Regions from separate parts of the Homo sapiens genome. Here region 2 is linked to region 1. A link means that fine-mapping ties the variant in region 1 to the expression of a gene that starts in the linked region. Tissue or cell type: whole blood. Region 1 holds a variant in brackets; the other region holds the start of a gene. All regions are shown on one strand. Distances are between the middles of the regions.

Region 1 (8,195 bases):
TAATTCAAGCTTTTCTTTTCTTTTTCTTTCCTTCTTTCTTTTTTTTTTTTTTTTTTTTGAGACGGAGTCTCACTCTCTCTCAGGTTGGAGTGCAGTGGTGCCATCCCAGCTCACTGCAGCCTCCTCATCCCAGGTTCAAGCGATTCTTATGCCTCAGCCTCCCCAGTAGCTAGGACTACAGGCACGTGCCACCATGTCCTGCTAATTTTTGTATTTTTAGTAGAGACGGGGTTTCGCCATGTTGGCCAGGCTGGTCTTGAACTCCTGACCTCAAGTGATCCACCCTCCTTGGCCTCCCAAAGTGCTGGGATTACAGACTTGAGCCACCACACCCGGCCGAATTCAGTCTTTTCATTCTCAGCTCCCACACGTAGAACTCAGCGAGACTTGACTAAAAACTGAAAGTTTATTTGCAAGAATGTTAGTAATAGTCAGCATTGTTATTTAGAAATGCTGACAGTTGTATTGTTGGTTGTTTTAAAAAAAACCTTTTAGCTGTGGGACATTATAGAGTAACTGGTCTATGTTTACAAACAACATGATGCCCTTACTCTTTGGAGGACCAATTGTTGAAGCTGGTTCCATTTTATTACACAGAAATTAAAATGACAAATGTTCACCCACGATTTAGGATCGAATAGGTGCCTGCAATTGTGCCCTCAGTAATTAACCCACTTGTGACACTGGCTTGATTTTTAAATCGGCTCTTCAAGAGGCTTACAACAGTTAAGAAGCTTGTTCCCTTGAAAGCAGTACCAGGTGCCAGTGAATTTAGAAGCAGGAGGGTTTCTAATATCCCAAGAATGCTGTATTTGCATAATTTCCTTCCTTAGCAGATGTTTCTTACCGAGAAAACAGTGGGTGTTATTTAAGTTAACTGTGGCAAATTTTATGAGGTATCAAGGGAAGAATGCTTTTGTCCTTAGTGAAAGCCCTGAAAACCTCGGAAGAAGGGCCACACAGGTATAAGGAATCCTCTTTTCACAAAGTCATAAACCAGAGTTCTTAGGTTGTCCTTATGCAGTCTTTACACCAGTGTGTATGTGTGGAGGCGAATGTGTGGAGGTGTATATGTGGAGGTGTGTGTATGTGGAGGCGTATGTGTGGAGGTGTGTGTATGTGGAGGTGTGTATATGTGTAGGTGTGTATATGTGGAGGTGTGTATATGTGTAGGTGTGTATATGTGTAGGTGTGTATATGTGTAGGTGTGTATATGTGTAGGTGTATATGTGTAGATGTATATGTGTAGCTGTATATGTGTAGGTGTATATGTGTAGGCGTATATGTGTAGGTGTGTAAATGTGGAGGTGTGTATATGTGTAGGCGTGTATATGTGGAGGTGTGTATATGTGGAGGTGTATATGTGTAGGCGTAGGTGTACGCATGGGCTAGAGGACGGGTATTAGCAAGAGGAAGGCCAGAATCTTTGGAGGGAATCTGTGTGGCTTGAAAAGCACCCCCAGGATTCTGATCTCACTCTTCACCATGTTATCCACAGGAAACTGGAGTAAATAAAATAGACTTTGGCTGCTGGTCTAGTGACAAGCTAGACAAATCTGCCTGGGAAGAAATGAAGACAGTCAATAGGAAACCCAATAAAACCAACACTTTTTATTCCCCTTTCTGTTAATATTCAGAAGAGTGGAATAGAGGAGAACATAAATGTTGGCCTGGGCAAAAAGGAAAGATACTCAAGTATTAGAAAGTAGCTTTTGCAAAAGAGTAAGTAGAAAAAAAAGGCTGATGGGTGTTCTGGTATCTTATAGGTCCTGTTTGGAAATGTACTACCAACTTGGTGATTTGGGCTAAGTTACATTACAAAGGGATGATTTTATTAGTAAAATAAGAAAATTTGAGCTTTGGAAAGGATTAAACAAACTATAATATGTAAAGCATGTAGCACAGCCTTTGACACACAGTGCATGTTCAATAAATAAAATAAATGATAGGTGCTGTTATTTTTTTAAGCACCCATTTTTGTAAGCCAGAGAGCACAACTGAAACCAAAATGTACATTTTCCAATGCCCAGCCAAGTGCCTTTCTCTCCTGATTACACAAATCTATACTTACCAAGACTCCTATATCTACAATATCATTATTTACAGAAAGGCTTTGAAAGAGCTTATTAGGAAGACTCAGACCTGTGTGTGTTTGTTTTGTTTTTGTTTCATCTTTAGGAAAAAAGGGGTGCTGGAAACATTCTCCGGAACAGAAACCAACAAGATTTGGCCCTATGTATATGCTTTCCTACAAACTAAAGTTCCACAAAGAAGCCAGAAAGCTTCAGTTACTCCATGAGGAGAAATGTGTGTAACTATTAATAGTAAGATGGGCAAACCTCCTAGTCCTTGCATTTAGAAGCTGCTTTTCCTAAGACTTCTAGTATGTATGAATTCTTTGAAAATTATATTACTTTTATTTCTACTGATTTTATTTTGGATACTAAGGATGTGCCAAATGATTCGGATACTAAGATGCATCGTTTGAAATCATCTAGTGTGTTGTATGCAGTTATCCTCAAAAACATCAGCGATGTCTGAACCTTTAAAACATCTGTTAGAGCAAAATTAAAAGAGCATTTGGTAGTAATCTAACTTTTTGTTCAGTTAATAAGTGGTTGATAAAGTTTCCATATTTTTCTGGAAAAGTTAAAAAAAGTTACATGTCATTTGGAGAAAATACGTAATCAGAAATTTGTGCATAGATTGATGCCAAAAAAGACATTTCCAGCATTGTGGAACATGGTGAGACACTATATAAAATTCCAGAAAGAAAGCAACTGGATTTACAGATTTATTGTGAGACACAAATTCACTGCTGCCTTTACACTAAGAAATGTATATGTTAACCATATATGCTGTATTTATTTTGTCGTTAAGCATACTTTCAGTTTACTCAGAATTTTCAATTTGCTATAAAGATGTATCAATTAGCATATAGAAAAATATTACTTTAAGATGACTTGTTTCCTTTGAAAATACCTGTGTACTGAGGGTTATGATTTGTGTCAAAAATTGACATAAGTGCTTTTACAAGCACCAAAGTTGAATGAATTTTCAACAAAATGTAATTAAAGTCTATGTTTTCAGTTATGACTCAGGTTAAGAAATGTGTTTTAGGATCTACTTGCTGGTTTTTCTTTTTGATCCAAATGTGTGATCTGCCCTGATAAATAACAAGTTATAGTACCATCTCCCCCGCCAATAAAAAAGAGAAGAAAAAAGAGAAACCCGTGGCACTATGTAAATAAAGTAAGCATACTTTGTTGTTAGTAAATAGATGAGGCATGCCTGGGAAATGCTCCCTTGGCATAAATAGCAATCAATCATAATTAGTAAACAGGTGTACCAATAAAAAGAATTTACATGATAGGTTAACAAGGACCAGGAAAGTGAGTTTCCTGAAGGAGTTCTTTGTTCCTGATCAAAGAAATTGATACCTGTTAGCATTCACTGCCACCATATTTTAAGGAGAAAGAACTCTATTGGTGTCGTCTGAGCAGCCATTTAAAAATTGGAATCTAAAGGATGGTTGCTGATGTACTGTGTGGTCTGGTAGAAGTGGGGAAATATGAGAGATGGAGGAAAAACTTGATTATGTCTTCCATGGCATATTTACTCTTACTTTACTTCGTGCCAAATCAAATGAAACAAGCCGTCTTACAAGTCGTTATTGCCTTTAAAAATCTGTTCCGTTTTTTTCCCAGGTACTTAAAATACAAGTGCCAGTAAGTGGTTCTTATGTGTTTTGGGGGGAAAATTTTATTTCCCTTTTCTTCTGATATTTAAAAAATTCATCGATCTTTCAAGATGAACCAAGGTTTTTTAAAAGAAATATAGGAAACACTTCATTCTTTATAAAACTTTCTATAATGCCTTATTTGAATGTTAATCTTATGTGCTTTCTAAAAAATGTTGTGAAATACCAAACTTATGGATTATCACTAGGTTATCAAGCATATATTAGTCTTTATCAGAATAAAATGAAATTTCATAACTGTGGCTATTACTTTGTTCTTGGTCCTTCACAGGGCCTGCTCCATCCCACCTTCCTTTCTGCTGCCTGATGTCTCAATGGCTTCTGAATGACTGTTCTAATAAATGATCTTAAAACAGTCCATAGGCTGGTTTCAGTTTATGCAATACTTCATCTCCTGCTATGGTAGCCATACCGGCCTTCATAATACCCTTAGGGGATTTGGAAATCAAAGTGAGCAGTGGAAGAACATGGCTATGAGAATTAAGACTCTTATTTCCTGTGACCATTCCCTCCCCACCCGCAAACACTTAGCCCAAAGTTTTGCACATACATTCATTACTTTAGGAATGAATATGACTGTAATACAACTTTTTTCTTTATTTTTTTTTAGACAGGGCCTCACTCTGTTGCCCAGACTAGAGTGCAGTGGCATAATTGGGTCACTGTAACGTTGAACTCCTGGGCTCACGCAATTCTTCTACCTCAGCCTCCCAAGTAGCTGAAACTACAGGTATGTACCACCATGCCTGGCTAATTTT[ATTT/T]TTTTGTAGAGACGGCGTCTCGATATGTTGCCCAGGCTAGTCTCCTGGCCTCAAACAGTCTTCCTGATTCAGCTTCCCAAGTGCTGAGATTACAGGTGTAAGCCACTGCCCCCACCCAAAAAAATAATTCTGTAATGACCATCATTAAGATTTATGTACCACATGGAAATACATGTATGGAGCTGAATGCCATGGCTAGGAGAAACTACTATACTTTTGTTAAAAGCCAATGAGAGGCCGGGCGCGGTGGCTCACGCCTGTAATCCCAGCACTTTGGGAGGCCGAGGCGGGCGGATCACGAGGTCAGGAGATCGAGACCATCCTGGCTAACACGGTGAAACCCCGTCTCTACTAAAAATACAAAAAAAAAAAAAAAAAATTAGCCGGGCATGGTGGCGGGCGCCTGTAGTCCCAGCTACTCGGGAGGTTGAGGCAGGAGAATGGTGTGAATCCGGGAGGCGGAGGTTGCAGTGAGCTGAGATCGTGCCACTGCACTCCAGCCTGGGCGACAGAGGGAGACTCCGTCTCAAAAAAAAAAGCCAGGGAGAACAGCACCTCAACTGATTTATTTTATAGAGTAAAAGTTATTTTGCTATACCTTTTGTAAGCAGCGTGTACTGTGGGAAATGCAAACTAGCAGTTGTTAGCACCATCCAGAAATTTCTGTCAGTTCCATTTCAAATAGTTTAAATACTGGCTCAAATCTCTAAACCCCACCCTATGGCTACTTTTCCCCCAGCTATATATAATGGCATTCTAGCAAGATATTTTGGATCCTCATAACTTGTGACAAAACTGCCCTATACTAACAACAAATCATTGTAATTATAGATCTCAAATTATGTTAAATTGCTATAGTTGCAACCAACAGCAAGAATTTGTATTTTAGAATATGTTGTGTCTTCTCATTGACCAAAAAATAAAAATAAAAATAAAAATAAATCCTCAGGCCCTGATAAACTGTAGAAATAGCTTTTCTATCTTTGCAGTTAAAGATTTTCATCTTGGAAGTTATGGTTAAAAAATTTTTAAACAGTTAAAATAGTGTAGCTGTGCTTAAAGCTTCTGGTAAAAGCCAGTATGCTTTGTAGAGCCCTTATCCCCCTCCTGCTTTTTATTTGTTTTTAGCTCACTAAATAATATAAACACTGATTTTTCCATATATAGCACTGAATAAACTGTCATGCCTAAGTGTAAATCAGTCCAGCACTGTGTCATCTTTTTCTAAAGCATTCCAAGTTAAATGTCTGATGTGTAAATAACATGAAGAATCATGCTGTTAACTGTGTGAAAGATGTGGGAATTTTAATAATCATTTTCTATATTTAGAGATCAAACAAGTCTAATTCTTCAAAGCTTATGAGAATGGTTTCACTTCATATTAGATGGTGAACAATCCATAATGAACTTATATTCACCCTGTGTCCCCCTCCCGACCCCCTTGGCTCACATAGTGAGCAAATAATTTTCAGATAAATCAACTTCTCAGAACTATGCAATTGTATATACATGTCCATTACAGATGAGAGATGGATGGATTTAAGGGTTTTGTTAAAAGTATGTTTGCTATAATGGCAAAATTGAAATGGAAAGCCCATGAAATGGAAAGCCCAACCTCAACCCAGACAAGTACCTCGGTTCTGTCCCACACCAATTTAAGAACTGAAATACATGATTGACTTAGAAAAGTAAACTGACATTTCGTTCTCCTCTGAAAATACCCAAAGGTTAACTTCAGGATCACCTTGCCTAAACCTACAGTCAACTTTTTTCATCCTGTTAGAAAATCCACTTACTAAAACAGATTCATGTTCTTTGGGCAGCATGTTCATTTTCATTTTTAGATGTTGCCAGGCTGGAGTGCAGTGGCGCCATCTTGGCTCACTGCAACCTCTGCCTCCCGGGGTTCAAGCGATTCTCCTGCCTCAGCCTCCTGAGTAACTGGGACTACAGCCACGCGCCACCATGCCCAGCTAATTTTTGTATTTTGGGTAGAGACAGGGTTTCACCATGTTGGCCAGGATGGTCTCGATCTCCTGACCTCAGGATCCACCCGCCTCGGCCTCCCAAAGTGCCGGGATTACAGGCGTAAGCTACTGCGCCCGGCTGTTCATTCATTTTTAAAAGGGTAATAATATGATATGCCAGTCTGAAAGAAGAGGAGGACCTGATTTTCCTAAAGAGAAGTTATAAGAGATTGTGAGCTCATTAGGCAAAATTTGAAAGAGCTCACTAATGGTATAATTGGAAGAGAATGTTACCCATCTACCTAAGAGTAATAATTTTAAGGCAGTATTATCTTCACTACCACTGAAAAAATGACACTGAGTTAACAGAGAATAAATGGACAGCTATTTGATTTAAAAATTTTTTTATTCAAATATTAATTTTATCAAATGAAACAAGAATCTTTGATGATACTTTGATGTAAAAAAATGTTTCATTCATGTGTTTGCACTTTCCATGGTTTAATTTGTTTAGGGTAAATTGTCCAACCTGAAATATAAATTATCCCTTTGCTTAATATACTCTTTATTTCTTCAGAAACAAAAAAAAGGTAGGAATTAGTTCAAGGATGTCAATTTACTGTTTCTAGTACTAAAGTACGGCTAACTATGTAATTTATAGCCTTTAAGTGCAAATTATGGCATCAGTCAGTGGTTCCCACAACAGACCCAATCACACTTTCATACTCAAAACACAGTATATTCTTTTGCAAGTAAAAATATATAAATCAAGTTTCAAAGAACATCTTTTCAGTGCCCCTCAAGAATAGTTTACTCAGTTTGTTGATACTTTCTCTCCTGCCAGTCTTCAGTCATTAAATACCTCTAACTTAGAGAAGGCAAAATGAAATTCAAAACAATTTGAATGCTTACAGGCAAATCCTGGGAAAGAAGGGAAAATAATAATTCAAGTAACATTTCTGTGAAACTAGGAATATGGCTCCTGTGTCTGCCCATTCTCTCAATTTGGTAGAAAGGGAAAAATAAGAGCTTGCTTCAGAACAGAACAAAAAGAAAAAAATGTCTACGACTAGGTCATGGGTTTAAAAAAAAAAAAAGTACAGGCTGACAAACACTACTATATAAATTAGTCAAACATTTTATTATAGAGTATATATTTATATCAAAAGCACAAAAACGTTTATTCTGAAAACCAGGAAGATTGTGATGTTACAGAAGAAGATTCAATAATTCCAGTCCATTTCTAGGGTACTAAGTGTCTGATCACCTCAGCGAAAACAAGATACAAATGAGGCCAAGGTCACAGGTCTGGCCACCCTGAGTCCCTTCGCACTATTTGGTTTCTCAAGTTGAGACACGTATTCCCAGTCCCAGTTAGCCACCTTCCAAGTGTTTGCTACTAGCCTTAATGGGTACTTAGCCAAAGACTACACCCAAATATAACCAAAGCTTATGTTAAGTCATAAGATTAATCCTTCAATAATAAGGATAGCATAATTGGCTTTGTTACCTAATTCTACATAAACAAAATCATCAAATATCCTGGCATAACTGAAATGACTTACAGAGGAAGTAGTAAAGCTTGGAAGTATTCTATGGTAACTGAGCTGAAAAAGGGGAAATGCCAAATGTTGTAAATGCCATCATTACCAATAAGAGTCACCAAATTCTCAGAAATAGGTAATTGGCAGCTCAAGGCAGTTAGCA
Region 2 (8,176 bases), 30 kb before region 1:
AATCCTCCCACCTCAGCTTCCCAAATAGTTGGGACCACAGGTGCACACCACCACACTGGCTAATGTTCTTCTTCTTCTTCTTTTTTTTTTTTTTTTTTGTAGAGGAGGGGGTGTCATTATGTTGCCTAGGCTGGTCTCAAACTCCTGGACTCTAGTGATCCTCCCGTCTTGGCCTCCCAAAGTGCTGGGATTACAGGTGTGAGCCACCACACCTGGCCTGGAGTGGATTTTTATAGTAGTGGATAACTGATGTACCTTCCTTCTCTTTGTCTTACTACAATCACTACAATCCTAGTAATTATTTCTCAAACATGAACCCTCCTATTCTTTTGTTCTCACCTAGGTAACACATAGTGTGAAGCAACATACAAACACATATACATGTTTCTTGGAAACAAGCTGTATTAGTTCCCTAGAGCTACAGTAACAAATTACCACAAACTAGGGGGCTTGAAACAATAGAAAGTTATTCTCTCACAGTTCTAGTGACTACAATTCATAGCCAAGGTAAGGGCAGGGTTATTCTCTCCCAAGGATCCTAGGGGAGAATCAGCTTTGTGTCTTTCTCTTGGCTTCTAGTGTCCCTAGCAATCTTTGGTGTTCCTCGGCTTGTAGCTGTATAAGCCCAATATCTGCTTCCATCGTCACATGGCATTCTCCTGCTATGTTTTCAGGTCATATTGGATTAAGAGCTGACCATCTTCCACTATGACCTGATCTTAACTACTTATGTCTGCAAAGACCCTATGTGTAAGTAAGGTCATCTTCTGAGGTACTGGGGATTAGGACTTCAATATATCTCCTGGGGGAATACAATTCAACCCATGACACATGCCTATCATTTCCCCCTCAGTTGTACATTGTAGAGTTGTACATTGAAGACTTAAACATTTCAGTCTTCAAATGTGACAAAGGCCGGGCATGGTGGCTCATGCCTGTAATCCCAGAACTTTGGCAGGCCAAAGCAGGAGGATCATTTGAGGTCAGGAGTTCAAGACCAGCCTGGCCAAAATGGCAAAACCGCTACTAAAAATACAAAAATTAGCGGGGCATGGTGGTGCAGGCCTGTAGTCCCAGTTACTTGGGAGGCTGAAGCAAGAGAATCTCTTGAATCCAGGAGGCAGAGGTTGCAGTGAGCCAATATCTCGCCACTGCACCAGCCTGGGTGACAGAGAGACTCCGTCTCAAAAACAAACAAACAAAAGTGACAAAACAGTAATTCTTAGTATTTAATCAACAAAACCCTACTGAGTGCCTACTATGTGCAAAGCACTCATCTGGGCTTTATTTGCTTCAAACTAATCTGTATAAACACTTGGTCATTAAATTAGAATTTGAATGAATTTGACCTCAGTGTTTTTCAGTTGGAACAAGGTAGGCAGTGAGGAACAGATCCATACAAAGGCCTGTGAATGGCGAAAAGACTATGCCAGGCACAGTTGCCAGGAGATTTCACAGACTGGCAGTTACTCATTTGTAATCAACAACCTTTTGCAAAGCCAAAGTTGATTGGTGTTTTGCGGGCCTGTTAATATGACCACGACACTCAGCTTTTCATCCCCGCAATGACAGGATGATTCCTCAGCTATTTTTGTTTGTTTGAACATTTTTTTTTTCTAAACCAAATTTCCCCAGGATTTTCTTTCTGGTTTCTTTTGGAGCTGAAACCTCCTATGTTCCCAGCTTTGGAGATTAGAAGTACTTTCTCCACACCTTCAGATTTTCTAGTATTGCATAAGTTGTACTTGTCCAGACTTGCTCATTCTTTAGTTAGTTCTGTTCAAGTTTTCTCATCCTTTCATTTATGTTGTTTACTTCATCCCTTCCTCTGCTTTCCATGGGTTATTTTGATGTCCTTTTCCCAATTACATGAATTCAATGTTTAATTCATTTATTTTCATTCTTTTCATTCTTTCTTGCTTAGTAATGAGTATGTATGAGCCCTGCTGGGCACAGTGGGGTGGCTCAAGCCTGTAATCCCAGCACTTGGAGAGGTCAAGGCGGGCAGATCATTTGAGGTCAGGAGTTTGAGATCAGCCTGGCCAACATGGTGAAATCCCATCTCTACGAAAAATATAAAAATCAGCTGGGCGTGGTGGCGGGTGCCTGTAATTCCAGCTACTCGGGAAGCTGAGGTATAAGAATCACCTGAACCTGGGAAGTAGAGGTTGCAGTGAGCTGAGATCGCATCACAGCACTCCAGCCTGGGCAACAAAACAAGACCCCGTCTCAAAGAAACAAAACGAGGCCGGGCGCGGTGGCTCACATCTGTAATCCCAGCACTTTGGAAGGCCAAGGCGGGTGGATCACCTGACGTCGGGAGTTTCAGACCAGTCTAAGCAACATGAAGGAACCCTGTCTCTGCTAAAAATATAAAATTAGCCGGGTGCGGTAGCGTGTGCCTGTAATCCCAGCTACTCGGGAGGCTGAGGCAGGAGAATCACTTGAACCCGGGAGGCAGAGGTTGCCGTGAGCCGATTGCACTCCAGCCTGGGCAACAAGAGCAAAACTCTGTCTCAAAGAAAAAAAAATGTACAAGGTATGTATTTTCTTTCTTTCTTTTCCACACCAGAAAGTATAAAGGCTAATGCCTTTTCTAAGTACCAGGCTGTCTACCTATTGAAATCCCCCATCCATTCACTCAGCTACGATTCACTGACTGTCTCACCCTGAAGTCATTTCTATCTTCTTTGAAATCAGTTCTGGACCTCTGAGGAGAATGGTAACTGTGTTTTATTTTCAGAGAGCCTTCTTTCTGCCTTAGCATAGTGTCCGGGACAAAGCAATGATGATAAATGGACAACCATTATTGAACATTGACCCCGTAGCTGGCATTGCACTAAGTACTACATTATTTTAACTCCTCCATTCTACTCCTCTATGCCCATTTTACAGGCAAAATGATACTCACTCGAACGTTTTTGTCCTCTGTTTCCATTCTTGAAACATGCCAAACCTCCAGTTTTAGGGCCTTTTCCTAAAACTGGACATAGGAAGGGCCCATGTCTCTCTCTTCCATATTCTAATTAAGCACTCAGCACACATGCCATCTCTTCAAAGCTTTTCCGACCGCCTATCTACAACAGCCTGCCTCCACAGTTTCACACACTCTTTTACGTTATTTATAAAAGAGTCTCACTCAATGGAAGCTGGATTTCCTCTCCTGTAAAATGAGGTAGGCCCTCTCGGCTCAAGGTCACTCCCTGTGATTCTACACAGAGAGGGAGTGGGAAGAGAGGGCGCTCGGCAGCAGAGGAGGAGGAGGAAGGAGGGAAGGGCGAAGGCGGGAGTGGGTGCAGAAGCGGGGGGTCTGGCGGTCCAGGGGGGTAGAAGGGAGGGGCGGATTCGAGTGGGCGCCAGGTGGAGGTGGGGCCAGGGTTGTCAAGGGAGCACGAAAGGGGTCGCGGTGTGTCCGGCAAGGACTGGGTAGGGCAGCGCCTGCTATGGACTAGGGGCGAGGGCTACGAAAGGGTTGTTGGAGGGGTGGATGCGGGTGGATCCCGAAACCAAGCGGCTCCGAGGGGCGACTAGAGGTGGGGAGGGGGCGCGCAGGAGTTGCCAAGGTCGGACAGAGGGGAGCGCGGTCTATCCGGCTGGGAATGGGCCGGACAGGGCGCGGGGTTCCGGGGTCGCGGAGAGGCGCGGAGGTAGATCTGAGCCGAGTGGAGGGCGCGTGGGGGTGGGTGCAGAGGGGCGCCGAAGGGATCCGGGCCCAGCGGCCGGTGGAGAGGGGCCGCGGAGAGGCGCAGGTGGGAGCTGGGCGGCCGAGCGAGCGCAGAGGGGGCGCGGCTTGCGCGGCTTGCGCGGCTGGGCGGGAACAGGCGCTCGGTCGGGGGCGGGGGGTGCGCCGGGGTAGCCGAGAGGCGGACGCAACAGCGGGGTCCCGCGCTGTCTGGGCGGCCCCAGGGGCTGTCGGCTCACTTCCGGGAACGCCGGGGAACCGCAGTAGCCGCCTGCTAGTGGCGCTGCTAGCCGGCCGGCGCAGGCTGCCGAGCGGGTGAGCGCGCAGGCCAGGCCAAAGCCCTGGTACCCGCGCGGTGCGGGCCTCAGTCTGCGGCCATGGGGGCGTCCGCGCGGCTGCTGCGAGCGGTGATCATGGGGGCCCCGGGCTCGGGCAAGGGCACCGTGTCGTCGCGCATCACTACACACTTCGAGCTGAAGCACCTCTCCAGCGGGGACCTGCTCCGGGACAACATGCTGCGGGGCACAGGTGGGAGCTCTGGGCCCAGGGCCGGCCGTGCGCTGTCACCCGGGTCGGACTTCGCGGGCGAGGGGCCGAAGCTGGGCACGCGGGTCCCTGGCTGCGGGCGCGGCATTTCCCTCCCGCCGCCCGGGACAGAGACCTCGGGCTGCTGAGCGACTGCGCCCCAAAACCTCCGGCCTCCGTGGGCCGCTTCGGGCGGGTTATGGGGTGGCGGTGGGGGAAGGGACTGGAAAGTTAGGTCGAGCTCGAAGTTCAGAGATGAAAGGAAACCACCGGGCTTTGTTTCAGAGGCCCAAGTCCTCCCAGTGGCAGCCACTCTTGGGGGTCCATCGAGCTGAGCCGCAGCTTGTTCAACGTGCTGGTGCCTTTGGAAGACTGTCATTAGCCCTGCTAGAGTCTGCTCGTTCTGTTTTGTTTTCTTTGTTTCTTTCTTTTCTCTTTCTTTTTTGGTGTGGTTAAGCTCTATGAGATCTTGTAGTTCTGACCTTTCCCCCATATTCCCAAGGCCAAGTATTATTTACCCTTGTTGCAGTCATAAAATTATCTCATTTTGATATCCTTAGATTTCGTAGACACGAAGGCTATTCTTGTGCATGGTTCTATAAAATATTTTGTTTCTCATGCCAAATAAATTCTTACAGCTCGGCACGAAAGGCAGTTAACAATCTACACTATACAATGGGTGAATTTGTGGTATGTAAATTCTCTCTTAAGAGGGTTGTTTTTGAAAAGCCAATCGCAGGAGTTTTTTTCTCAAAAAATGTTGACCTTACTTTTCAAAATAGAACCCGTTTTGAAACTCATTTTGAAACCCATTTACATAGAAATAATGCTTCCACAAGGCCTTTTTCTTTTGTTTTCCTTCTTTTTTTTTTTTTTTTTGTAAGGATAGCAAACAGGATAGACGTGCATAGCATAAAAAACAACGCCCTCTTTCGTTCCCTACCTCAGTCCCATTCTTCGGAGGGGAACAGAGTTTTCCTTCTAGAAAGGTTTACTTTTTAAGCGCAGATACGTGTACCTTTTTTCTTTTTTTCTTTTTGGTTTGTTTGTTTTTTGAGACGGAGTCTTGCTCTGTCTGCCTCCTGGGTTCAAGCAATTCTCCTGTCTCAGCCTCCCTAGTAGCTGGGACTACAGGCGCATGCCACCACGCCGGGCTAATTTTTTGTATTTTTAGTAGCGATGGGGTTTCACTGTGTTAGCCAGGCTGGTCCCCATCTCCTGACCTCGTGATCCACCCGGCTCGGCCTTCCAAAGTGCTCGGATTACAGGCGTGAGCCACCGCGCCCGGCCAACGTGTATCTTTTCTTGTATGTAATATGTGAGCATACTATGTGTATATACTCTGCACTAGTGTGGTTTCACTTTGTGTCTGGGATATATTTCACATGAAAACGGACAAATCCATTTCATTCTGTTTTTGTAGTATGTATTTTCTGAATCTAGTATGATTTATTTAACCAGTTCACACTTGTAATCCCAGCACTTTGTGAGGTCAAGGCGGGCGGATCACTTGACCTTAGCAGTTCTAGACCAGCCTGGGCTACTTGGTGAAACTGCGTCTCTATAAAAAATTCAAAAACAATTAGCGAGGCGCAGTGGCAGGCACCTGTGATCCTAGCTACTCGGGAGGCTGAGGAGAGAGAATCGCTTGAACCTGGGAGGCGGAGGTTGCTGTGAGTCGAGATTGCAACGCTGCACTCCAGCCTGAGCAAGACCCCATCTCGAAAAAAAAGAAAGAAAGAACAGAGATTGTTTGACTTGCTTGCTAAATGTTGTTAATGCGACATACTGAAGTAGTTAGGTAACATTAAACAGTCCCAGATACTGCTACTGGTTGGGGTCAGGTTAACCAAAGTCTAGGAGAGTAGGCCTGGCGCAATGGCTCATGCTTGTAATCCCAGCACTTTGGGGGCTGAGTCGGGCAGGTCACTTGAGGTCAGGAATTCAAGACCAGCCTAGGCAACATGACGAAACCCCCGTCTCTACCAAAAATACAAAAAATTAGCTGGGCATGGTGGCTCGCGCCTGTGGTCCCAGCTTCTCTGGAGGCTGAGGTGGGAGTATCACTTGAGCCCGGGATGCAGAGGTTGTCATGAGCCGAGATTGTGCTACTACACTCCAAGCTGGGTGACAGACAGAGTGATACCCTGTCTCAAAAAAAAAAAAAAAAAAAAAAAAGTAAAGCATATTTATTATAAAAGAAGGAAACTATATCTATTTCATGCAAATGTAAAAAAGGTAAATTAAGATCCCTCATAATTCTGCCTTGCCACACAGAGATGATTATAATTAACTCTTGGGTGCATTTTCTTTTATTCTTTTTTTTTCTTTTTCTTTTTTATTTCTGTTGCATTTGTATTTGCAAAATGGTTGTATTCTAAAATTGTCATATTCTAAATGATAGGTTACTTTTTTATTCTCATTTATAGTGAGCATGTTCACACATCATTAAGCAGTCTTAAAAATGATGTTTAAGCTGGGCGGGGTGTCTCACGCCTGTAATCCTAGCACTTTGGGAGGCTGAGGTGGGTGAATCACCAGAGGTCAGGAGTTCAAGACCAGCCTGGCCAACATGGCAAAACCCTGTCTCTACTAAAAATACAAAAATTAGCCAGGCATGGTGGTGGGCGCTTGTAATCCTAGCTACTTGGGAGGCTGAGGCAGGAGAATCACTTGAAACTGGGAGGCGGAGGTTGCAGCGAGCCGAGATGGCGCCATTGCATTCCAGCCTAGGTGAAAAGAGCGGAACTCTGTCTCAAAAAAAAAGATGTTTAATTTTATCAAAGTTGTATAGTTATTAAACATTTTTATTGGACGCGTATGTTGTTAACTATTGTTTGTTGTAATAAATACTGTTATGACTATCCCTGCACATAAACATTTGGCAAATCTTTGCTTATTTCCTTCAAATAAATTCCTAGTATGGAATTTCTACAAATATGGTACTATCAAATAATACAACAGAAGGATTGTGCCAATTTAGTTTCCAGTCATTGTTTCATGAGGGTGCTATATTTTATAACCCATGGCTGTATTTTATAGCTAAGGTTTAAAATCATCACAGGAGATATGATAAGGACACTGGAAACTTTAGGCAACTCATTGACAGTAGCAAAGCTGGAATAACTGTAGGTCATCACTGAAACTTGGAGTCAGGGAACTTGAATCTGACCTTAAGACATTTAGTCCAGTCCTCTCTTTTATTGTATTTTATTTTTTTGAGACAGAGTCCCCACTCTGTCGCCCAGGCTGGAGTGCAGTGGCACGATCTCGGCTTACTGCGACCTCCGACTCCTGGGTTCAAGCGATTCTCCTGCTTCAGCTTCCGAACTCAGGTAGCTGGGACTACAGGCTTGCACCACCGTGGCTGGCTAATTTATTTTCAGTAGAGATGGTTTTGCCGTATTGGCAGGCTGGTCTCGAACTCCTGACCTCAGGTGATCCAACCGCCTTGGCCTCTCAGAGTCAGACCTCTCTTTTAGAGATGAGGAGACTGAGTTCAGGAGAACTTGCTTGATAGTAAACAGTATTTATTGGGGGATTAGGGTGAAAACATAGATTTCTCCATGTTAAATACTCTTTTCTCTATGCAGTATTTCCCACATTGAGATTCATGAGATAGACATGAATTAGACGATGAGATTCATGAGATAGACATTTTAGATAGACAAAAACTTTTTATTTATTTTAAAGCAGAATTGAAACAGACATAAATCTAGCACATGAAAGCTGTATTTCATGAAAATTATAGCTATTAATTTTTAAAGCTAAGTCACTTTAAAGAAAACTATATAGTAAAGAACTATATAGTAAAGAAAAACTATATAGTAAAGAACTATATAGTAAAAAAAACTATATAGTGAATAATAGTTCAACTATGGTAGAAATCGTGAGGTTGAAGTGTGATTGCTTAGTCTGAGAAAGCTGCACTGTAGCATAGTGCGTCTCAGAGACATAACCCTGGCTAGG

The links. PIP is the estimated chance that this variant, and not a neighbour inherited with it, causes the effect.
Region 2: it holds the start of AK3, and the variant in region 1 is fine-mapped to the expression of AK3 in whole blood (TOPMed, PIP above 0.99).

What each region holds. Positions count from the first base shown.
Region 1 is chr9:4,707,080-4,715,274 of GRCh38, reverse strand. It overlaps CDC37L1 (cell division cycle 37 like 1, HSP90 cochaperone), which reads right to left. Exons shown (of 7, transcript NM_017913.4): 7 at 6,876-8,195. It overlaps AK3 (adenylate kinase 3), which reads left to right. Exons shown (of 5, transcript NM_016282.4): 5 at 2,179-5,719. The coding sequence ends at 2,299. Among named protein-coding and RNA genes, the nearest start is that of AK3, 30 kb to the left of the region's middle. The variant ATTT/T (reference allele first, on the strand shown) is at 4,519.
Region 2 is chr9:4,736,971-4,745,146 of GRCh38, reverse strand. It overlaps AK3 (adenylate kinase 3), which reads left to right and starts at 3,945. Exons shown (of 5, transcript NM_016282.4): 1 at 3,945-4,210. The coding sequence starts at 4,060. RefSeq lists silencers at 3,556-4,045, 4,276-4,415.